Linked DNA regions of Homo sapiens: all the other regions are linked to region 3. The links come from fine-mapping of genetic effects on gene expression. A gene starts in region 3. Each other region holds a variant in brackets. All regions are shown on one strand. Distances are between the middles of the regions. Region 1 overlaps HDLBP (high density lipoprotein binding protein). Region 2 holds the start of LOC105376810 (a long non-coding RNA gene). Region 3 holds the start of SEPTIN2 (septin 2).

Region 1 (2,754 bases), 58 kb after region 3:
CTATCAGGTCATAAGAAAGTTTATCTTTTCTTCTGCTGCTTGTAAATGTGTTCTTACATTTCAGTTTCTGATCTATTTGGAATTTATTGCAAATAGGGTTGAGGCACTGATTGAGTTTCACTTTTTTCCATACGGCTTTCGAGTTGTCAGCACTATTTTTTTGTTTGTTGTAACACAGGGTCTCAGCCTGCCACATAAGCTGAAGTGCCATGGCATGATCACGGCTCACCGGAGCCTCAACCTCCTAGGCTCAGGCAGTTCTCCTGCCTCAGCCACCCCAGTAGCTGGGACCACAGGCACACGTCACCATGGCCAGCTAATTTTTTTTTTTTTTTTTTTTTTTTTTTTGAGACGGAGTCTTGCTCTGTCGCCCAGGCTGGAGTGCAGTGGCGCGATCTCGGCTCACTGCAAGCTCCGCCTCCCGGGTTCACGCCATTCGCCTGCCTCAGCCTCCCGAGTAGCTGGGATTACAGGCGCCTGCCACCATGCTAATTTTTGTATTTTTGGTGACCTCGTGATCCACCCACCTCGGCCTCCCAAAGTGCTGGGATTACAGGCGTGAGCCACTGCGCCTGGCCTTGGCCAGCTTATTTTTAAAATTTTTGTAGAAGTCAGGTCTCACCATGTTGCCCAGGCTGATCTTGGACTCCTGGGCTCAAACAATCCTCTCATCTCGGCTTCCCGGAGTGCTGGGATTACAGGCGTGCCATCACTGTCTTGAAAAGACGTTTTGCTCTAGTGAACTTGAGTGGCTGCTTTTATCATGTCCTAAATGTTTATATTAACTTAGCTCTGTTTCTGGGTTTTCAGTTCAGACCAGCAGGTCTTTCCGTATACTGGTATTTCCTGTGTTAATGATAATGGTTTCATGTTTAATGTCTAGGACCACTGTTAACACCTCCACCCTGCACTATTCTTTTTCAGGGTTTTCTTGTTCATTTTTGTTGGTTCTGTGTTACAACCTTTATAATCAACTGTTTGAAATTGTATTAATATTTTAAAGTTAATTGGGATGATCGCCATCTACTTAAACCTTCTGTTAGCTATTTTAAGGAGTGTTTTCTAATTTCGAATGCACATACTCCACCTTGTGTTGGGCTTGTGTCTTGCTATTTTCTTGTCCTTTTTTCTTTTTTCCTTTTTTCTATTAGAAACACATCTTTTGGCCAGGCGCAGTGGCTCACACCTGCAATCCCAGCACTTTGGGAGGCTGAGGTGGGCGGATCACAAGGTCAGGAATTCGAGACCATCGGGGCCAACATGGTGAAACCCTGCCTCTACTAAAAATATAAAAATTAGCTGGGCATGGTGGCGCACGCCTGTAGTCCCAGCTAATCGAGAGGCTGAGGCAGGAGAATCCCTTGAACCCAGGAGGCAGAGGTTACAGTGAGCCAAGATGGCACCACTGCACTCCAGCCTGACGTCAGAGCGAGACTCCGTCTCAAAAAAAA[A/G]GAAACGCATCTCTTTCATTACATCTTCTAAGTAGTTGTTGTTTGTGGAAGTTAATGTTGTTAACTTCTTGATTTCAGTCTTTTCTCTTTGCTATAAATAGAATTTCACCCAGTAGTTTTTTCAGGGTTTCTGGATATGCAGTCATGCTTCTTCCTGTCCAGCTTTTGTGGATGTTAACTCTTGTCTCCCTTTGTGGGTGTATATTCCAGTGGATGTTAAGTAGTGGTGCAGATACACTCGAACTTACCCTAACCTGGGAGTCAGGGCAACCTTCCCCAAGCATGTGATGTTTAAGCTCATGCTGTTTTAATGGATGAGTTGGTGCTGCTGGGCAGGAATAAGCAAAGATGGTGTTTCTGCCAGAATGTCTTGGAAAAATATGCTCCTTCAGAACCTACAAATATTCTTGTTTTCTTTTATTCTCTTCTTGCTATAGGCCTCAGCAACTGTTGCCATTCCCAAAGAACACCATCGCTTTGTTATTGGCAAAAATGGAGAGAAACTGCAAGACTTGGAGCTAAAAACTGCAACCAAAATCCAGATCCCACGCCCAGATGACCCCAGCAATCAGATCAAGATCACTGGCACCAAAGAGGGCATCGAGAAAGCTCGCCATGAAGTCTTACTCATCTCTGCCGAGCAGGTGAGGCCTGTGTGAGTGCCTCGTGCCCCTGCCTACCTGCTTGTGCAGACCTCACTCCCTCATGGGTTGCCGTGTCCAGTGTGGACTTCAAGGCATAATGTGGTGGGGGTGGAGGGCTTGACTCCAACTCTAAAAAGCCCTGTCTGTCCCCAGTTTGTTTTCAAAGGCCTGTTCTCATCAGATCATCCCTTCCTTTCCAGGACAAACGTGCTGTGGAGAGGCTAGAAGTAGAAAAGGCATTCCACCCCTTCATCGCTGGGCCGTATAATAGACTGGTTGGCGAGATCATGCAGGAGACAGGCACGCGCATCAACATCCCCCCACCCAGCGTGAACCGGACAGAGATTGTCTTCACTGGAGAGAAGGAACAGTTGGCTCAGGCTGTGGCTCGCATCAAGAAGATTTATGAGGAGAAGGTACACGATTTAGAGGAGGCAAATCCCCATGGGCAGGAATAGAAATGAGGATTTGGGTCTGGAGATTCAGTTAAGGCCTGGTTCTGCCCCTTATCTTTTTGTCCTTGATGAAGATGCTTATTGTCTCTACACTTGAGTGACCCGGGTGAGATCGGTGCCCGCCCCCCCTTGCTGTTGAGCATCTGCCTGGCAGTTGTCCTTGCCGTCCTGGGCCTCTGACTGTGCTGACAGGCTGCCAGCTGG
Region 2 (2,754 bases), 89 kb after region 3:
GGCTAGGGTGACCACGGCTTAGGAAACAGGGAAAGAAAGCAAGGCCCTTTTCCTGCCTTTCCCGGGATCTGTCTACTCCACCTCCACGGGGGAGGCCAGTGGGGAAGGGCTGTCACCTCTTCCCCATCTGCATGAGTTCTGGAACTCTGTCCTGTTGGCTGCTTGCTTCCAGCTCCCCCCAATCTCCATCGCAGCGGGTTCCTCCTGTCTTTTCTACAGTGTCATAAAACATCCTGCCCCTACCCTCTCCCAAAGGTCAATTTTAATTCTCACCAAGTTTTGCACATCTCTGTATGTCGCTTGATGTCTTAGACGCGAGCCCTTTCCTAAACTGTTCAGCGCTCTCTTTTCCTTTGGGTGGTTGTTGCAAGGGTGATGACATGACTGTCCCCAGGCCTGTCTCCCTGAAGCGTCTGTGCTGTCAGGACAGCCCTGGGCAGAGATGAGGCAGGGGTGAGGCGTGCGTGTGCTTTTCCTCCTTGTTGGATGTCTTCCATATCATCTGTTTCCATAGCTACAATCCATCCCTTGGCCTTAACTTTGGAATTTGGAGATTATATGCAAACATGTGTAAAGGCTCATGAATATGGATGACACTGGAATTTTATAAATTCTAAAATAAAACCCGAAACCAGATGTAGCATGCTGGGACTCATTTTGTCACGCTGCCGCCTGTGTGTTCTCTTTCTCGTCACCCTGGAGTGGTGACTGGCATCTGTGGGTAGTTCGTCTTTGGTGTGATTTTCTCAGCAGTTCTCAACACTGTGTTCAACGGCCCCTCGGGAGCCACACTGAGGGAGACCCAGGTGTGGTCATGGCAAGAGGGTGGCTGCCTGTCCCTGTCCTCTGGCTGCCAGACAGTCAGCAGTTGCCCTGCAGCCCTCATTGAGGGTGGACAACCGTCCTTGTGGAGCAGCACCTGCCACTCCCTTTTAGGACTCTGCCAGCCTCAGTGGCATTCCTGGCACCCTGGACCCGGCCTGTGAGTTATGACGAGCTGAGTTGGGTGGTGGGGGGTGCGGGCGGAGGCCTCGGCTGGAGGAGGAGGAGGGAGGGGCGTTGAGTGGGAGGAGCCACCCCAGTCACCTGAGTGGCAGGAGATAACGGGAAGAGTCAAGAGGGAATAGGTGTTCCTGCTGCTGACTGGGCTGGTCCCCACCTGGGAAGACGGGTATGGCAGTTCCTCTTAAAGCCAAACATGTTGGCCGGGTACGGTGGCTCACGCCTGTAATCCCAGCACTTTGGGAAGCCGAGGTGGGCGGATCACGAGGTCAGGAGATCAAGACCATCCTGGCTAACA[C/T]GGTGAAACCCCGTCTCTATTAAAAATGCAAAAAATTAGCTGGGTGTGGTGGCGGGCGCCTGTAGTCCCAGCTACTCGGGAGGCTGAGGCAGGAGAATGGCGTGAACCCGGGAGGCAGAGCTTGCAGTGAGCCGAGATCGTACCACTGCACTCCAGCCTGGGTGACAGAGCGAGACTCCATCTCAAAAAAAAAAAAATGCCGAACATGTTTATCCCTGACCCAGCAGTTCTGTTGGGCCCTAAATATGCAACCCACAGCAAAGCACACAACTGCAAAATGACCCTAAGCCAAACACGAAGCAGCCCAGCAGCCAGGAGGGGCTGAGATGGATGCTCGGCACGGATGGAGCTCGCGCAATGTCCCACGGCAGACGCCAAATGCAAAGTCCCCAGTTCCATCTCTGCTTGGTGGCTAAGGTGGTGGCTACTCTGGATGGGAAAGGGTCACAGGCAGGGTAGGGCGCATGTGGGCATCAGGGCCCTGGATGGGAGAGGGTCACAGGGTAGGGCGCACGTGGGCATCGGGGAGCTTCCACGTCGGGTGATGTGGAACTTGCCTTTTACCCACGTGCTGGTTACAACAGTTTGTTCACCTGGAAGCCTGTATGAACTGAGCATTTTCGTACGTTTCAATAAATTCACCTTAAAACTTTGGAGTTTAAGACAGCAACAATAAAAAGCAACCAGCTGGAAGGAAGTACACGTGGGTTTGTAGTAAGCATTGTGCTGAGCGAAAGCACACGTGGAATGGCTGAGCTCCCCATCTGTGTAAAGTTTCCAAGGTTCCCGCCCCGGGCCGTGTGTGCTGTCCGCCATGCTCCGGCCGGTGGTGTCCAGCCCCAGGGCGCTGTGAGCCTGCATCCCTGCCGGAAGAGCCCTTCCATGGAGGCAGGGCACAGTGCTCCTAAGAGGCAGGTGAACAAGTAGCAAATCCTCAAGAAATGCTACAAGCAAGCACGCCGCCCTCAGGCCAGGCATCACGGTGGGTGAAATAGAACGCAGGCGAGGATGTTCAGAAAGAGGCCTTTTCTGTGGAGTAAGTTTGGCAGTACTCATCAAAGCACATTAAAACCACATATTCTTTTTGTGTGTGTGTGTTCCCGAGACGGAGTCTTGCTCTGTCGCCCAGGCTGTAGTGCAGTGTTGAGATCTCAGCTCACTACAACCTCCGCCTCCCGGGTTCAAACGATTCTCCTGCCTCAGCCTCCCAAATAGCTGGGATTACAGATGCCCGCCACCACACCCAGAATAATTTTTGCATTTTTAGTAAAGACAGGGTTTCACCATGTTGGACAGGCTAGTCCCGAACTCCTGACCTTGTAATCCTCCTGCCTCAGCCTCCCAAAGTCCTGGGATTACAGGTGTGAGCCACCACGCTCAGCTAAAAACCACATATTCTTTTTGACACTTAAGTTCCACTTGTAGAACTCCAAGGACATCAATACAGATGAGCA
Region 3 (2,754 bases):
AAATATATCGGCAGGCACTGTGATTCAAAAAGTATTTGAGAACCTACTAGGTGCTAGACACCAACCGAGGCAATGAGTATGGGTGACAACATGTGCCCTGCCCTCACAGCACCAATAGTCCACTGGACAAATACCATCTGGAACATCAGGTAAACACCTAAGCCTGTCTGGAGGAAATCTAATTTGGGCGGAATCCCACAAGCACAGACTAGGTAAGGAGAAGGCAGTTAAGGTGGGAAGTAGCCAGATTTAAGAGTTTGGGCAATGGCCAAAGGTGCAGAAGTTTGAACTACAAGAAGTTCAGTGTAGTTGGTTCGTGTGTTTCCGTGGAGAGAGGACAAGGTCTGGTGGCACTGACAAGAATTAGACCGAAAAGGTAAAAAAGCAAGCCAGGTTTGTCTGGGCCAGTAGGCCAGGTCACAGTTGGGACTCCACTGAGACCACGGAAGCCACAGGTTTGCTCCTCATCCCCGGGCCAACTCGGCGGCCTCCAACCCTATACCCTACCCCCTGCTGCCTGTCCGTGCCTCGCTGGTGCAGACCTTCGTCGCCTCTCCTCGCCGAAGGTACCCGCAGACAGGGCCTAGTCGCTCTCCCCTCGCTTATCCACGGCATCCAGCCGATGGGCTTGGAGGTTTGGGGGCTGGCCAGTCCTCCACGCCTCAGGGAGGAAATGGCACCGTTAGAAAGACAAGATGGCCACACAAGCTCTAAGTGTTTGTCGGGCCTAAACCTGTATCCTCCCTCCAAGCACCAAACCTCCCGACCTCGACCGCACTCGACGCCCCGAGGCCCAGCACCGACGACAGTGCAGAGGAATTCCCGCAGGGTCAACAAGGGGTCACCGGAATCCCCACTCCCGCGCCCGGGCCTGCCCGTGTCGGAGCCACTGTCGCCGGCACTAGGACCGCCCGGGACGGGGGAGCCCACGATAAGTGCCGAAGAGCCTGGGCTCGGCCGCCCCTCCCCCACACCGCCCCGCCGGCACCCCAGAGCCAGCCGACCACCGCCCGAGAGTATGGGACGAGCGGCGCGTCCCCCGCAGCTCCTCGGGAGGGCCGGCCCACAACTTGTGCGGGGTACACCGGCGAGACACTCACCCGCCAAACAGCCCGAGAACAGGCGCCGACCGACCGCGCCGCGGACCCGCCCAGCGCTCGCGGTCCGCTCACAGCCCGCCCCAGCCCGCCCCGCCCCGCCCAGCGCGCAGGCGGATTGCGTCACCGCGTCACCCCGCCCCTTTGCCAACTGCTTCCTGGCTCAGTGCGACCTGGCCTTCTTCCCCTCCCCCATGCGGCCGGCTTCCGAGTGCGCAAGCCCAGAGTCGTCCGCGTTGTCCGCCTCTGCGCAAGCGCCGTGCTCCTCCCACGGCAGTTGGCCATATAGAGGCTGGGGGTGGGGGGGGAGGTCAAGCGTAGCCTCTTCTCCTTTACCAAGATGGCGGCTTGTCCCTGTTTCGCCACAGTTCCTACCTTATGAGCTCGGTTTTCTTATGCTTATAAGAGTGGAACAGGTAATGAGAATCTTCGCCTTGCGGTGGGTAACTGGAGTGGGGGGAAGGCCGTTTGTTAGAAGGAGACAAGTGCCCACTGAGGAGGAGAGAGGCGGTCGCGGGAGGGCAGGTGGTGGCGGGAGTGCGGAGCGATCACGGGGAGGGGGAGCCTTCGCCTCTCCTCCTGTCCTCCAAGAAGATGGCGGCAGCACCGAGCTGGGGCGCCGAGTACGACTGGGCGGGGGACGGCGAGCGGCCGCGCGAAACTCGTCTAGCCCACCACCGCCGCCGTCTCGATGATCGGGGGGCCTCTCTGGGATTGGCTGCGCGCACGTCACGTGGGGCCGACGGGCCCTGCGCAGACCATCGAGTCGGGCGTCCCTCCCCGGGGACGTGGCCTTCCTGTGCCCGGGCTGGGGCCCGCCGCCCCGCGGGGGAGGGCGGAGCTGGCGCGGCCCCTAGCTTTCTCCTTCTGGTGTGGGGCCCGAGGTGAGACCTGGGGAGTGCTCCGCGAGCCCACGAGCAGCGACGTGGCTCGGGGACGGGAGGGTGCCGTGCCTGGCTGCGGCCTGAGCGGGATGGGCGCGGGCGGCTCCGGCCCGCGGGTTGTGCCCCGGCCCGGGGTGTCCTTTCCTCCCTCCCGCGTGGCCTGGAGGCACTGCAACTGTTCGAGACTCACGTCAAGGCTTGGCGCAAATACCCCTCGTTCAGGAAGCCTTCCTAGGTTTCCCCCGCTTAGAGGAAACACTTCCTGAGTTCCTAATGGCTGACCCGCATGGTGTTGGGAACCTGAGCCTTTCTGACACCGTGGCATGTTGCTAGGGTATTTTTGTGCGTAGCTCCTTTGAAAAGTGGTTAGGTGCTCAAGGCTAGCTGCTACATATCCTCTCCATTCGACTTAAAAAATGAGAGGGTCAGACTTGACATGGTGTTTGGACGCCATGTAAAATCGAAGGAAGTCGACTTGGGCTTTGCTTATTAAACAGTGCCTATTATGGTGAAATTAAACGGCTGAAGGAATGTGGATGAGTCGTAATCTTAAGGAACATGACGATTTGCCCCTCAGTTTTGCGTTTTATGTCCTCAGATTCATAGCTACCTATACCCTAAGCCCTCAATCAATGACTTCACATTTATTTGGTGTCTGCTTAAGGATAGTCACTTTCTTAGCAGCTAACTTCCTTAAAACCCTATTAAGATAGGTTAAGTCACAATTAGGGTTTTGTCTAAGGCTCCTGGTAGCGGCACATTGCATAATAAGC

The links.
Region 1: its variant is fine-mapped to the expression of SEPTIN2 in Th1 cells (Schmiedel 2018, PIP 0.95).
Region 2: its variant is fine-mapped to the expression of SEPTIN2 in whole blood (TOPMed, PIP above 0.99).

Annotation. Positions count from the first base shown.
Region 1 is chr2:241,255,941-241,258,694 of GRCh38, reverse strand. HDLBP (high density lipoprotein binding protein) reads left to right here. Exons shown (of 28, transcript NM_005336.6): 6 at 1,889-2,095; 7 at 2,296-2,511. Among named protein-coding and RNA genes, the nearest start is that of HDLBP-AS1, 15 kb to the left of the region's middle. The variant A/G (reference allele first, on the strand shown) is at 1,452.
Region 2 is chr2:241,225,173-241,227,926 of GRCh38, reverse strand. It overlaps ANO7 (anoctamin 7), which reads right to left. Exons shown (of 25, transcript NM_001370694.2): 25 at 1,951-2,754. It overlaps HDLBP (high density lipoprotein binding protein), which reads left to right. Exons shown (of 28, transcript NM_005336.6): 28 at 1-636. LOC105376810 (a long non-coding RNA gene) reads right to left here and starts at 1,248. Exons shown (of 2, transcript XR_001739176.3): 1 at 1,160-1,248; 2 at 1-1,035. The variant C/T (reference allele first, on the strand shown) is at 1,301.
Region 3 is chr2:241,314,329-241,317,082 of GRCh38, reverse strand. It overlaps SEPTIN2 (septin 2), which reads right to left and starts at 1,158. Exons shown (of 13, transcript NM_004404.5): 1 at 1,101-1,158. It overlaps HDLBP (high density lipoprotein binding protein), which reads left to right and starts at 1,411. Exons shown (of 28, transcript NM_005336.6): 1 at 1,411-1,513. RefSeq lists enhancers at 1-685, 636-695, 686-1,410, 1,336-1,435, 1,456-1,505 and 1 more and silencers at 886-1,235, 1,776-2,155.